Linked DNA regions of Homo sapiens. The protein of the gene in region 4 purifies or fractionates together with the protein of the main gene of each other region. This does not show direct contact. Each region holds a gene or a part of one and is shown on either strand. Other genes may lie near its edges.

Evidence for each region. The genes of interacting proteins can lie anywhere in the genome.
Region 1: the proteins of HIPK4 (region 4) and ZNF146 purify together in Homo sapiens (affinity purification with mass spectrometry, with the first as the bait; one large-scale study listed by BioGRID). This does not show direct contact.
Region 2: the proteins of HIPK4 (region 4) and ATP1A1 purify together in Homo sapiens (affinity purification with mass spectrometry; one large-scale study listed by BioGRID and IntAct). This does not show direct contact.
Region 3: the proteins of HIPK4 (region 4) and AKAP8 purify together in Homo sapiens (affinity purification with mass spectrometry; one large-scale study listed by BioGRID and IntAct). This does not show direct contact.

The regions. Positions count from the first base shown.
Region 1 is NC_000019.10:36,221,606-36,225,105, reverse strand, and holds part of ZNF146 (zinc finger protein OZF), read right to left. Parts: intron 1-3,500.
Region 2 is NC_000001.11:116,393,744-116,397,243, reverse strand, and holds part of ATP1A1 (sodium/potassium-transporting ATPase subunit alpha-1), read right to left. Parts: intron 2,135-3,500; coding exon 1,959-2,134; intron 647-1,958; coding exon 510-646; intron 1-509. UniProt on the Homo sapiens protein: This is the catalytic component of the active enzyme, which catalyzes the hydrolysis of ATP coupled with the exchange of sodium and potassium ions across the plasma membrane.
Region 3 is NC_000019.10:15,369,788-15,373,287, reverse strand, and holds part of AKAP8 (A-kinase anchor protein 8), read left to right. Parts: coding exon 1-437; intron 438-940; coding exon 941-1,070; intron 1,071-1,289; coding exon 1,290-1,336; intron 1,337-3,108; coding exon 3,109-3,142; intron 3,143-3,500. UniProt on the Homo sapiens protein: Anchoring protein that mediates the subcellular compartmentation of cAMP-dependent protein kinase (PKA type II).
Region 4 is NC_000019.10:40,387,382-40,391,328, forward strand, and holds the start of HIPK4 (homeodomain-interacting protein kinase 4), read right to left. Parts: upstream 2,801-3,947; 5' UTR 2,522-2,800; coding exon 2,057-2,521; intron 1-2,056. UniProt on the Homo sapiens protein: Protein kinase that phosphorylates human TP53 at Ser-9, and thus induces TP53 repression of BIRC5 promoter. May act as a corepressor of transcription factors.

The sequences.
Region 1 (3,500 bases), 4.2 Mb from region 4:
GTAAAAACACTGAAAAGCAAATCATGATAATAAAAGTAATAGAAAAACACTGAAGGCATTTCTATTAGATTCTAAACAGACAAGGATGCCTACTGCCTCAATTATATAATCTAATTACAAATAACTAAGGAAAGCAGGGAATAATATTAGTATGTAGAAATCAACAGCTTCATATATGCCAACAATGACTCCATTCATAGCAACATAAAACAAAACATCCAGAAATAAACTTAGTAAGAAGTGTCCAAACCTGTATGAAAAAAATTTTAAAACACCCTAGAGGACCCAAAAAGAAACGAGAATACGTATCACGTACATAAAGAGGAATATTTAATGTCATAAAAATGTCCCTATTCCCAAGTTATTTTATAAATTTAATGCAATCCCAATAAAAGTAACAAACTAGTTCTACCTTTTCCCCCTCTGGAACGAGACAAGCTAATCCTAAAATTTACAAAGAAAAATAAACAGGCAAGAATAGCCAGGAAACACTGAAAAGGACGAGCAATTAAGAGACTAGCTATACCACAAAGTAAAACACAATGATAAAGCCTCAATAGTAAAAAGATAAATATTTTCCCTGGTTGTTACACCTGGGCTATAGCAGTGTCCTCAGTCTTTCTGCTCACACCCAGAAACAGACCAAATAAATGTGAGAATTTAGTATATAATCAAAGTGGCATCCTAAAAATAGTAAACATAAGACCTTTTTTTAATGTGTGTGAGATGGAGTTTGGCTCTTGTTGCCCAGGCTGCAGTGCAGTGGCACAATCTCAGCTCACTGCAACCTCCGCCCTCCTATGTTCAAGCGATTCTCCTGTCTCAGCCTCCGAATAGCTGGGATTCAGGCATGTGCCACCACACCCAGCTAATGTTTTGTATTTTTAGTAGAGACAGGGTTTCTCCATATTGGCCAGGCTGGTCTCGAACTCCTGACCTCAAGTGATCCACCCACCTTGGCCTTGCAAAGTGCTGGGATTGCAGGCGTGAGCCACCGTGCCCAGCCAGGTAAGACCTTTTAATAAATGATGTCAAAGAACGTGGTAGCCAATTGGAAAAAGGTAAAGCTGGATGCATATCTGATAGCATACACCAGGATAAAATCTAAATGGATTATAAATTAAAATAAAAACAAAATCTTAAAAAAACTATTGCTCTGACTTGGGAAGCCAAGGTAGCAGGATCACTTGGGCCCAGGAGTTTGAGACCAGCCTGGGCAACACAGGGAGATCTTATCTCTACAATTTTTTTTTTTTTAAATTAGCGAGGATATGAAGGCTGCAGTCAGCTGTGATCACGCCACTGCACCCCAGCCTGGGTGACAGATCAAGATCCAACTCTAAAACAATCAAACAACAAAAAACTGTAACTTTATAAGAATTTGAAAATATCGGTGAAACTTAAGAGTGGAAAAGTCTGATAACCATAAAAGACTGATGAATCAGCCACGCGCGGTGGCTCACGCCTGTAATCCCAGCACTTTGGAGGGCCGAGGCGGGCGGATCACGAGGTCAGGAGATCGAGACCATCCTGGCTAACATGGTGAAACCCCGTCTCTACTAAAAATACGAAAAAATTAACCAGGCGTGGTGGCATGCGCCTGTAGTCCCAGCTACTTGGGAGGCTGAGGCAGGAGAATGGCGTGAACCCGGGAGGCGGAGCTTGCAGTGAGCCGAAATCGCACCACTGCATTCCAGCCTGGGGGACGGAGAGATACTCCATCTCAAAAAGAAAAAAATGTAACTAGATTTTTTTTTTTTTTTGAGACGGAGTCTCACTCTGTTGCCCAGGCTAAAGTGCAGTGGTGTGATCTCGTGCACCACAATGACTGGCTAAATTTTTTGTATTTTTAGTAGAGACGGGGTTTCACCATGTTGACCGGGCTAGTCTCAAACTCCTGACCTCAAGTGATCTACCCGCCTCAGCCTCCCAAAGTGCTGGGATTACAGGCGTGAGCCATCGCGCCCAGCCAAAAGTTTTGAAAATAAAAAGAAAACCATAGCAGCATGGTGGTGCACTGCCTGTAGTCCCCGCTACTTGGGAGTCTGAGACTTGCTTGGGCCCAGGGGTTCAAGGCCAGCCTGTGCAACACAGTGAGACTGTGCCTCTAAAAAATACATGAATAAAAAGGTCTTTGGTGTGGTGCGGGGATGTCTCTGTGCTCACCAACCACAGGGGGCTCATTCTAAGCACGGCTATGTAAAAAAAGAAACTATTATTACTAAATTAAAACAAAACCTCTTATTTCTGCAAGATTAAAAAAAAAAGAAACCACTGTGAACAATGTCCAAATGCAAATGAAAACTTCAAAAAAAAAAAAAAAAAAAGCCACCACTCATTTCATACAGGGCTAACCTTTCTAATTTATAAACAGCTCCTCTAAGGAGAAGACACCCCATAGAAAAATGGTGAAAAGGATATGAATAGACAGTTCCTAGATTAATACATACAGGCCTTTAAACATATAAAAAAAAATTCTCATTCATAAGAAGGGATGTAAATGAAACCTACACTGAAGTTCAGATTGTCTCTTATGTCCCTAGCGAAATACCAAATATTCGACACTACACTCATGGTGAGTTTAAGGGGAAGACGCTCTCGCACATGGCTTGTGGGAGTGTAAGTACTTACCCACTGGGCAGCGCCATTTGTATTAATAGCAGTCTAGTTTAGAGCTACTCCTGTGTCAGTATAAAATGGCGCACATAAAAAAATTATTCATTACTGCATTGTTAGCAACAGCAGAAGACTGGAAACAATCCAAATGCTCAACAACGGGATTAACTGAATCAACCATGGTGCATCCAAATAATGACATCTTATTTATACAGCAGCTGAAAAAAAAATTTCTTTTAAAGATTATGATTAAGAAGGAACACCTTGGCTGGGTGCAGTGGCTCACACTTGTAATCCCAACACTTTGGGAAGCCAAGAGAGGAGGACTGCTTGAGCTCAGGAGTTCGAGACCAATCTGGGAAACAGTGAGACCTCATCTCTACAAAAAGTAAAAAAGCCAGGTGTGGTGGAGTGTGCCTGTGGTCCCAGCTACACAGGCGGCTGAGGCAGGAAGATCACTTCAGCCCAGCAGTTGGAGGCTGCAGTATGCCATGTTAACACCATTGCACACCAGCTTGGGTGACAGAGCGAGACTATTTCAAAAAAAAAAAAAAAAAAAAAAGAAAGAAAAAAGGAAGGGCTATCTCTAGGACATACTGTTATTAAAGAAAGTGAGATATAGGGAGGTGCATGTGGTATGCTATCTTTTATGTAAGGTGGAGGGAAACAGGAGTGAAGAGAAATATATAATAGTGACAGAACAAAAAACAAAAAACCCACTTGAAGGATAAACAAGAAGCAAACAAAAAAAAACAAGACATGTTTACATAAGACAAAGAAGAATGTGACTGGGGGAAGGGAGCAGAATGAGATATCTCTGTGAGATAGATCTTTGTTGAATCACAGAAATGCATTACTTACTTCAATAGTAATCAAATTCATTT
Region 2 (3,500 bases), on a different chromosome or scaffold from region 4:
AACCTTAAAACAAAACCAATTTGCTATTATCTGTTTTACTTCATTGCCAAATGTCTCCTGTGTTTGCCTGAATGGCCTAAGTAATTGTCCCTTCCTTATTTTATTTTGTTAGTGTGGACCTGGAAAGTGTCAAGATGCTAGGTGCTAGGCAGTAGAGCTCAGTGGTTAACAGCATGAAATCAGAAGCTAGACTGCTGAATTTACTGCATGATTTCACCAGTTCTGAGGTACTTCAAAAGCCTCTTGAATCCTTACCTTCCCTGCTCTGCAAATAATAGGTCACCATATCAAGCTCTTAGAACAGTAAATACCATCTAAGTGCTAATTATTATGACTTGCTCTTACTTAAAACCCTTCTTAGGAATGACAAGGTTGCTTTCTGGCAGTGCAGGTACATTTCCTACTCAGAGCAAGCCTAGATGCAAACCATTATAGAACCACGCTGAAGATTTTAAACCATCACTATTTGCTTGTTCACAGCAGACTGTGATTTGAGCTTCCTGCCTTACCTGGGGTTCACCTGGCTGACTGGGATGTTGAGGCGGGCAGCAATGTCTTCCACGGTCTCATTGCCTTCTGAGATGATGCCCACACCTTTGGCAATAGCTTTAGCTGTGATTGGATGGTCTCCTGTGACCATGATGACCTGTAATAAACAAGACAATGTGTTGAATGCAACTGCCAAGTAAATGACCTTAAAGTCTTATATCCAGTAGGCAAGAGTAAATACTAAGGATGATTCGGCTTAGACTATCAAAAGGAAAGGAATGCAAATATAAAACTAATAAACATCGATTAGCCAAAAATATAAACATATATATCCACAGAAAGGAAACACAAAGGCAATACTCAGGTTTTATCTTGGTATACAATCACTAGCATACACAATGTCTATTTTTCCTTCTACAGAGTTACATAAAAATACTTGAAAATTACTAAAACCAGCAAAAAAAAAAAAAAAAAAAAAGGATAAAAATCTGATGCTGGTGGGACTGTGAAGACACCACATGCTACTGGCTAGCATTCTCAAATTGGCACAACTTGGAGGAAAAGCAACATGTGACAAGAATTCAAAATTGTTATTTTTTGATGCAGTGATTATACTTAGAATATACTTTAAAAAGAAGCAGTCGGAATGGTGAGGAAATAACTTCTACAAAGCTTTTCAGGGCAGTATTAATCCTGAGAGTAGGCCGGGTGTGGTGGCTCACGCTTGTAACCCCAGCACTTTGGGAGGCTGAGGTGGGCAGATCACCTGAGGTCAGGAGTTTGAGACCAGCCTGGCCAACGTGGCGAAACCCTATCTTTACTTAAAAATACAAAAATTAGCTGGGCGTGGTAGCGGGTGCCTGTAATTCCAGCTACTTGGGAGGCTGGGGCAGGAGAATTGCTTGAACCTGGGAGGCGGAGGTTGCAGTGAGCCGAGATCGTGCTATGACATTCCAGCCTGGGCAATAGAGCAAGACTCTGTCTCAAAAAATAAATAAAATAAAATCCTGAGAGTAAAAAACAGAAACCAAATACCCAGCAACAGGATATTAGTGCACTTGAGTAATATTCAGCTACTTAAAAAAAGACAGATACACAGAGGACACCAAACACTCATTAACAAACAGTTAACTGAAAACACAGAAGATATGCCATTCATTGCATAAGGTACATTAACTTAGAATAATGCAAGTATTTTAAAACTTCAAGTCTTTTGCTGTTTTTACTTTGCTTACATTTCTTTTTTACACAATTGCTTTCCAAAAAATTTTTAATTCCTCGTGTGTTTACACCATCATATTTTAATACTATCTGGTCTTTTCTGGGTGGAAGTAAAGCTTTGGAGATGAGAAATTAATACTCCAGGTGAGATAGAACAGCTGGCCATCTGGACCTCAAAAGGCAACATTCACTGAGTAGGGTGTCCCAAGGCACTAAGAGATGAAGCCAAGGAGGCGCCTGGGCACTACCTTAATTCCAGCACTTCGACATTTGCCCACGGCATCAGGAACGGCCGCCCGTGGAGGGTCAATCATGGAGATGAGCCCAACAAAGCACAGATTATCGATAGGGAAATTCACATCGTCAGTGTCAAACTGGAACCCTTCAGGAAACTGTTCATCTGGCAGAAAGAGGTGGCAGAAACCTGCGAGGAGGACAGGAGCCTTTGAAAATTTCAGTGACGCTGGGCAGTAAGAAGGACAACAGCAGCCTATTCAGCCCGCCTACCTTTCTCTGGAGTGTTTACTTTGGAAAATTTTTAAAGTCTATATTTTTATAACAGAGTGAGGGTTTTATTTAACATTTATGAACGATAGAGTCACTGAAAGAAAAAAAGCATTTGAAAGACAGAATCCATCACACCAGGCCTCAAAGGAATTGGAAATTGTTTAATGTGGAGAAGACTGAATTGATAACACTAATTTTGAGCACCAGGATATTAGGGTTCTAGACTTGCCCACTGATGATGACATTAAGTTATTTGGATTTGGCAAATCATGGAATTATCTGCCTCAGCTGCCTTCTCTGGAAACATCAAGGCCATACCTCTGCTCTCTTGTTCATTTAACTGAAACATATTACTGAGCACCAATGTGGGACATCATGCTAGCTACTTTTGAGGATAAGTACAGATCAGATGCATTCTGCCCAGGGGGTTTATCATCTAGTATAGTAAATACAAGAATCAAGATAATGTAAGACATTCTTTTCAATGTTGTATGACGTTACAATGATCTTTAACGTGCCATGTGGACTCAAAAGAAGAGAGACTGCTTCCACTTTGGGGTGGTGGAAGTAGGGAAGTGAAAAACACTTAAAGAGAAGATAGCAATCCTTCGGTTGGATAGACACATACGAAAGATACCATGAGTTAGATTTACCCAAGTTAAGAAGAATAGGAAGCATTATATAAATAATGAATGTAGTATCTGTCAACCTACAAAGTATTATAAATGCCACTTTCCCAAATACATTAGACAATGGGTAAAGTGAACTTCTCAGCCTCAGTAGCTGTCAGGGTAGAAAAAAATAGGTAGCATCTTAGACTAAAAGTTTACCGTTAGTCTAGTTTCTAAGCTGAGCACATAAGTGCTCATGTAAATTCACACCCATTCCAAGGCAGTCAGGAAATAGTATGTCTAACTTAGACACACTAAGAATTAATTAACTTTAATTAGGCTTATAAGTCATGTCCACAGCAACAAAGGTTAGATAAGAAAGATATTCTTCCACCATTTTTTTTTTTAAACAAACAGAACTGACTAGCATGAGACCAAAGGTCTAAGTACAAGTCAGAAGCAAACCATCAGGACGTTGTTTCTCACAGCCCAATACGCTGAACATTTCTTCAGCACTTATTGTTTTCAAAATAATAGGGGGCAAATAAACAAATAGGAGGATTGCCCCTAAAAGATGTAGAGGAAGGTCAACAAGACATAGAGGTTCATAGGATCACTTGTTAACTGTCTACCAGACTAGGTTACTGGATAAAAACGTGCCCAGGCACTCTG
Region 3 (3,500 bases), about 25 Mb from region 4:
AGCACAACCCCTACCGCCCCAGCTACAGCTACGACTATGAGTTCGACCTGGGGTCCGACCGCAATGGCAGCTTTGGGGGGCAGTACAGTGAATGCCGAGACCCAGCCCGGGAGCGGGGCTCCCTTGATGGCTTCATGCGGGGCCGGGGCCAGGGCCGCTTCCAGGACCGGAGCAACCCTGGCACCTTCATGCGCAGCGACCCCTTCGTGCCCCCCGCTGCGTCCTCTGAGCCCCTGTCCACGCCCTGGAACGAGCTGAACTACGTGGGTGGACGGGGCCTGGGAGGGCCCTCCCCCAGCCGGCCACCTCCGTCCCTCTTCTCCCAGTCCATGGCTCCCGACTACGGCGTGATGGGCATGCAGGGGGCGGGCGGCTATGACAGCACCATGCCCTACGGATGTGGCCGCTCGCAGCCTCGGATGCGGGATCGGGATCGGGTAAGCCCTCGCAAGGTTCCTTCCGGCCGCCTTCGCTTCTCTTTTTAGCAGCTTTATTGAGGTAAAATTTCCCCATCTCAACATTCACTTAAATGTTTTTAAGTGCGCAGTTCGACTTTTAGTTAATTTACAGGATTGTGCAACCATCCCCACCATCACAGTCTAATCTTAGCATTTATGTCAACCAGAAGAGAAACTTCTTCTCATTAGTCACCCCTGTCTCTTCCCCGCCCCCACCAGCCCCCGACAACCACCACTGGTCTCTGGATTTGTGTGTTCTAGACATTTTGCACAAATGGAGTCGCGAAACGTGTGGCCTTTTGTTCCTGGCTTCTTTTCACTCAGCATGATTTTCTTTTTAGTTTCAAATTATGTTGTCTCTTTGCTTTTTGAAAAGACCTTTTGTGCCTGTGTTGTCTGATCCTACAACCTCCTTGTTCTTTTCTGTGGGGCATCTTCATGGCCCTCGTAAGTAGCTCATGGGGTGTGCTTGTTGTCTGTAGCCCAAGAGGAGAGGGTTTGACCGCTTCGGACCAGATGGCACGGGCAGGAAACGGAAGCAGTTCCAACTTTACGAGGAGCCAGACACCAAACTGGCCCGGGTTGACAGTGAAGGAGATTTCTCCGAAAATGGTATGTCCTGGGGGCCAGGTGGGCCAGACAGATGTAGGATGGGTCGGCTGCCTGCTGGGGGCTCTGCTTGCCCCATCTGTGTCGTGGACACTCGCAGGTGGCATGTTTCAACCCCACTGTGGTCAGGGCAGACTCACCCTGGATGGCGAGCTTGGGAGGGCGGAAACCGGATGGGACCGTTCTCCGGGGACTGACTTTTCCTTTCTTTGTGTCTGGCAGATGACGCAGCTGGTGACTTCCGCTCAGGAGATGAAGAATTCAAGGGTGTAAGTCCACCAGGCAGCCCTTTTGCCTCTAGTGTGGGATTTCTTCTTTCTTTAATCACCCTTCCTCACAAAGGGGCAGGAGCAGCTGCCATGGTAGATTTGACTACCTCTGAGTGGATTCAGGACCCTGACTTTTAGCTAGATTTCTAAAAGTTTTCCACCTTAGCCGGCACGGTGGCTCACACCTGTAATCCTAGCACTTAGGGAGGCTCAGGTGGGTGGATCACTTGAGGTCGAGAGTTGGAGACCAGCCTGGCCAACATGGTGAAACCCCGTCTCGATTAAAAATACAAAAATTAGCCAGGAGTGGTGGCACTTGCCTGTAGTAGCAGCTACTTGGGAGGCTGAGGGAGGAGGATCACTTGAACCTGGGAGGTGGAGGTTGCAGTGAGCTGACGTTGCATCACTGCACCCCAGCCTGGGCGACAGAGGGAGACTCCGTCTCAAAAAAAAAAAAAAAGTTTTCAACTTACAACAAACATTCCTTTTCTGAAAAAAGCTCCCAGTTCCTCTCCCTGGTCTCTAGGCCAGTAAGTGCAGGGACTGTGGGCTGAAGCCTCCAAGCACAGGCTGGAGGCTCATTTGCCGCCAGCTCCGTGCCGGGTGCCGCTGACTGGTGTCCTCATCCTTCCATCCTCACAACAAGGCACAGGCAGGCAGCACGTGGGGCCAGTTCATAGCCGGGACCACCCCAAGCTCTTGGGGAGGTGCCTCAGCCACCCCAGTGTAGATTCTGATCCAAGTTGGAGGTGTAGGGCCTGGAGGTCCAGAGTGGGAAGGAGGGCCTTCCCCAAGTCCTTAGAGTCACACAGGCAGGGAACAGGCAGGAGATGGTGGCTTTTCAGGTTTTCAGAGTCTCACTTGATCCCTATTTTGCTGGTCTTGAGATTAGGAATCTCTGTAAACCTGCTGATTGTTAATTTAGCCGTATGTTCACTGCCTAAGGAGTCAGCTCTGTTCAGATTCTCAGTTGAATCGTTTTTATCTATACGTGATTGTTATTAAGACATCGGGTAAATATAGGCCTGGCGCGGTGGCTCACACCTGTAATCCCAGCACTTTGGGAGGCCAAGGCGGGTGGATCACGAGGTCACAAGATTGAGACCATCCTGGCCAATATGGTGAAACCCCGTCTCTACTGAAAATACAAAAATTAGCTGGATGTGGCGGCATGCGCCTATAGTCCCAGCTACTCGGGAGGCTGAGGCAGAGGATTTGCTTCAACCCAGGAAGCAGAGGTTGCAGTGAGCTGAGATTGCATCATTGCACTCCAGCCTGGGAGACAGGGCGAGACTCCGTCTCAAAAAAAAAAAAAAAAAAAAAAAAGACATTGGGTAAATATAAACAAAAGCTCGGGAAACGTGGTGGAACCCATTTTCTATGAAGAATGCCAGAACTGGCATCCCCCAAGTGAGACTCTATCTCCCTACGGTTGGTGAACAGGCTCCATTCATAGAATTGTACGGGTGGGTCTTTGTCATGGGGCAGGCAGTTCTGCAGCTTAGGAGGAACCGAGAGAGGGTGGGTGAATGGCTTTTTAGCAAGGTGATTGTCACAGAATCTCTGAAGGCAACTAGGAGTAATAACAGGACACACAGGCCCTGTCCTGAGCCCCGGAGGCTGGTCCTAACACACTGTGGCTCATTCTTGGTGGCATAGCAACCTAGGTCTTGGGTGAGACTGCCCACCAGGCAGTGGCCAGGGACTGGGCTGGTTGTGGAGAGTCTGGACACACCAGCTCACTGCCGGACTTTGTGTATACTCTTTTCCAGGAGGATGAACTCTGCGACTCTGGGAGGCAAAGAGGTAGGCATCACCGTGTCCCTTGCAGCTTTCCTGTGTCTTCCCAGCTGCCCCGCACTTACTGCCCAGCTTCTGAGCAAGCCAGGGGCCTGGATGGAGGGGCCCGTGGCTGTGGGGGAAGAGGGGCTGCAGCCACCAGATGGGCCTTGACCGTGGCGATCAGCCAACACTTTGCTTCAAAGTGTCTGGGGCAGCATTTACTGGAAACGGGTCTGTCTGCCTGACCCGATGTGGGCTGCAGTGGGGATGGGGGGCAGCCTTGGGTGTCCACCACAGTCGAAGTTTGTAGGGAAGGAGAAACATGAGAGAAGAGGCCCCCAGCCCATCTTCTGTGCCCTCCTCGGCCAGTGCATTTCCCTGA
Region 4 (3,947 bases):
TGCGAATGGCCGAAAGCCTTTGTCTCTCCCCATGCCTCTGGTGGAGCTGTCTGCCATTTTCACCCTGAATCTCCGTGACTCTCTCTTGGCCTGTTTCTTTTTCTTTTTCTTTTTCAGGTGGCTTCACTCTTTTGTCCAAGCTGGAGTGCAGCGGCATGATCTCGGCTCACTGCAACCTCCGCCCCCATATGGGTTCAAGCGATTCTCCTGCATCAGCCTCCCAAGTAGCTGGGATTACAGGTGCACCCCACCACATCTGGCTAAGTTTTGTATTTTTAATAGAGACAGGATTTCACCATGTTGGCCAGGCTGGTCTTGAGCTTCTGACCTCAGGTGATCCACCTGCCTCAGCCTCCCAAAGTGCTGGGATTACAGGCTTGGGCCACCACACCTGGCCAGCCTGTTTCCTTCTCTGAGTTTTTCTGCTTTTCATTCAGCCATTTCTCAGTTTTTTGTTTTTGTTTTGTGTTGAGACAGAGTCGAGCTCTGTCGCCCAGGCTGGAGTGCAGTGGCGTGATCTCAGCTCACTGCAAAACCTCTGCCTCCCAAGTTCAAGTGAGTCTCCTGCCTCTGCCCCCCAACTAACTGGGATTCCAGGTATGTGCCACCACGCCTAGCTAATTTTAGTTTAGTTTTTTTTTTTTTTTTTCTGAGACAGAGGGACTTCCTCTGTCGCCCAGGCTGGAGTGCAGTGGCGTAATCTCAGCTCACTGCAACCTCTGCCTCCCGGGTTCTAAGCGATTTATCTGCTTCAGCCTCTGGAGTAGCTAGGATTACAGGTGCCCGCCACCACACCCGGCTAATTTTTATACTTTTAGCAGAGACGAGGTTTCACCATATTGGTCAGGCTGGTCTTGAACTCCTGACCTCAGGTGATCCACCCGCCTCGGCCTCCCAAAGTGCTGGGATTACAGGCGTGAGCCACCGCACCTGGCCATCCCTCACCTTTCACTTGCAGAAAGCAGTATCATGAAATGGTTATTAATTGCTATTCTGATCCCAGAGTGCCAGGGCTTCAGTACCCAAGAGGCTGAGTGACCCTGGGCACTTAGTCTATGTTTGTGGAATGAATTCATTCCTTCCACAGAGACAGTGGGGGTGATAATGCCGGCCAGGTGCTGTGGATCCGTCCTGTCTGTCCCCTGCTGTGTTTGTGGAAGTCCCTGCTTCCCTGGGTCTCTGTCCTTCCACCTCTTGGGGCAGAATAATCCACCTTTTTCTGTCTCTGTGTCTCTGGCAAGCATTCATTTAGCACTGGCTCCATGACTGCAGTGCTGGGAGATGTCAGGGACACAGCGATGATTAAGTCAGCCCCAGCCTTGCCCTCAGGGTGCCCCTGGTTCAGAAGCATCCAGACAGTATCAAACTCAAAAGCAGACAGAGGACTGGGCATGGTGGCTCACACTTGTAATTCCAGCACTTTGTTGAGGCCAAGGTGGGCAGATTGCTTGAACTCAGGACTTTGAGACCAGCCTGGGCAACATGATGAAATCCTGTTTCTACCAAAAAACACAAAAATTGGCTGGGCGTGGTGGCTCACGCCTGTAATCCCAGCACTTTGGGAGGCTGAGGCAGGTGGATCACAAGGTCAGGAGTTTGAGACCAGCCTGGCCAACATGGCGAAACTCCATCTCTACTAAAAATACAAAAATTAGCCGGGCATGGGTGGCGGGCACCTGTATTCCCAGCTACTCAGGAGGCTGAGGCAGGAGAATCGCTTGAACCCGGGAGGCGGAGGCAGTGAACCAAGATCATGCCATCATCACCCCGTCTCTGATAAGTACAAAAAAAAAATTAGCTGGGCGTGGTGGCGCATCCCTGTAATCCCAGCAACTCGGGAGGCTGAGGCAGGATAATCACTTGAACCCAGGAGGCGGAGTTGCAGTGAGCTGAGATTGTGCCACTGCACTCAAGCCTGGGTAACAGAATGAAACTCCGTCTCAAAAATAATAATAATAATAATTTTAAAAAATTAAAAAAAAAATCTAGGGCTGGAAGAAGCTGGGAAAAAGACAAGGAACTAGGGACGCAGCCACCCTAGACGACCCCTACTCACCTTGACCCTGAAGGGGCAGCGGGTCTGGTCCACCAGCATGATGTTCTCAGGCTTGAGATCAGCGTGGATGATAGCCAGCTCCTTGAGCCGGGCCAGGGCTGTGAGCACCTGCAGGGTGACTGTACGGATGTGGCGGGCGGGGAGGGGCGCGAAGTTGTTCTCCTTCTGGAACTCGAAAAGGTTTTGCTCCAGCAGCTCAAAGACCAGGTAGAACTTGAGGGCGTCATGGAAGAACTCAAGGAAGCGGATGACGTGGGCCTCTTCAGGGTCTAGGCCTCGCATGCAGTGCAGCAGCTTCAGCTCGTTCTTGATGATGCGGTTGCGGTAGGCGTCATTCTTGAGGATCTTGATGGCCACCATCTCGCCCGTGCTCCGCCGCCAGCCCTTGGCTACCTCCCCGAAGGTCCCCTTGCCCAAGACCTCGATGATGTCGTAGCAGTCAGTCTCCGACTGGATGGTGGACATGGTGCCGCTGCTGCCAGACACCGCCCTGCCCAGGCCCCTGTACCACTGGCTCTGCCGCCCAGGCCTCCCGCCTGGCTGCTGACACAGCAGGCCCCCCAGTGGGGGAAAGAGAACCGCACTCGTGTCTCCTCCTATGAGGTTGGCCCCTGCTTCCCTGGCACCCCCAAACCCCCAGGCCACACTGTCAGTCTGCCAGGGGCTGCACCCCTCCCCAGAAACCCTCCTGGCTTGGGATGAGGGGCCCCAGGCCCCACCGAATGGGTTCCAGCGCTGTTGAGTGGCTCTGGTTCTGTTGTTGGAGACCTGAGCCCTGGCTGGAGTGGGGGTGGGGTACCAGGCTGGGCCCCCTCCCCCGCCCAGTGGCGGAATCTTGCAAAGACCAAACAGGTGAAGTGTTGACAGAGGGGGGTCTAATCGTGGGCCTTGGGCATACAGGAATGGGGATAAGGCAGGAGTGAGGAAAGGTGGGCTTCTTGAGCTTGGGAGATGTGATGTGTGTGTGTCTGTGTTCAGAAAACTCCTGTCCCAGTCTGTGGCTACTGTGGGGTGAGGTTGTAAAAGGCCCTGAATGCCAGGCTAAGGAGTTTGGATTCTGTTCTGAGGGCACTGGGGAGCCACAGAAGGGCTTTGAGCAGGGGAGGGCAGGGTCAGATATGAGTGTCAGAAAGTTACTGTATGAAAAGGGATAGGTTGGAGCGGGTAAGAGTGGAAGCCCCAAGCCAGGGAAAGAGTCCAGGACAGGGCACAGATGGGAGAGGTTGGGGAGGAGAGGGCGAGGCCAATGGATGAGACACTCAAAAGGCCAGGAGAAGCAGCCGTGAGACCGACGGTTTGAGGGAAAGGCGGGAGCTGTCTAAGAACGGGCCTAGGGCTCTGGGATGAAGGGGCAGTCCCCGAGAAATGGACATGGATAAGAAGCAGCTTGGGGGAGATGTTGAGGCCAAATTAGAAAATGTATTTATTTTTGGCTGGGTGCGGTGGGTCACGCCTGTAATCCCAGCACTTTGGGAGGCCAAGGAAGGCAGATCATAAGGTCAGGAGATCGAGACCATCCTGGCTAACACGGTGAAACTCTGTCTCTACTAAAAATACTAAAAATTAGCCAGGCATAGTGGAGGGCGCCTGTAGTCCCAGCTACTCGGGAGGCTAAGGCAGAAGAATAGCTTGAACCCGGGAGGTGGAGGTTGCAGTGAGCCGAGATTGCACCACTGCACTCCAGCCTGGGTGACAGAGCGAGACTCCATCTCAAAAAAAAAAAAAAAGTGTTCATTTTTATTTATCTTTTTAATTTTTTGTAGAAATGGGGTCTCACTATGTTGTCCAGGCTGGTCTCAAGTGATCCTCCTGGCCTCAAGTGATCCTCCTGCCTCAACCTTCCAAAGTGCTGGGATTGTAGACATGAGCCACCACTCCAGCCAGATTAGAA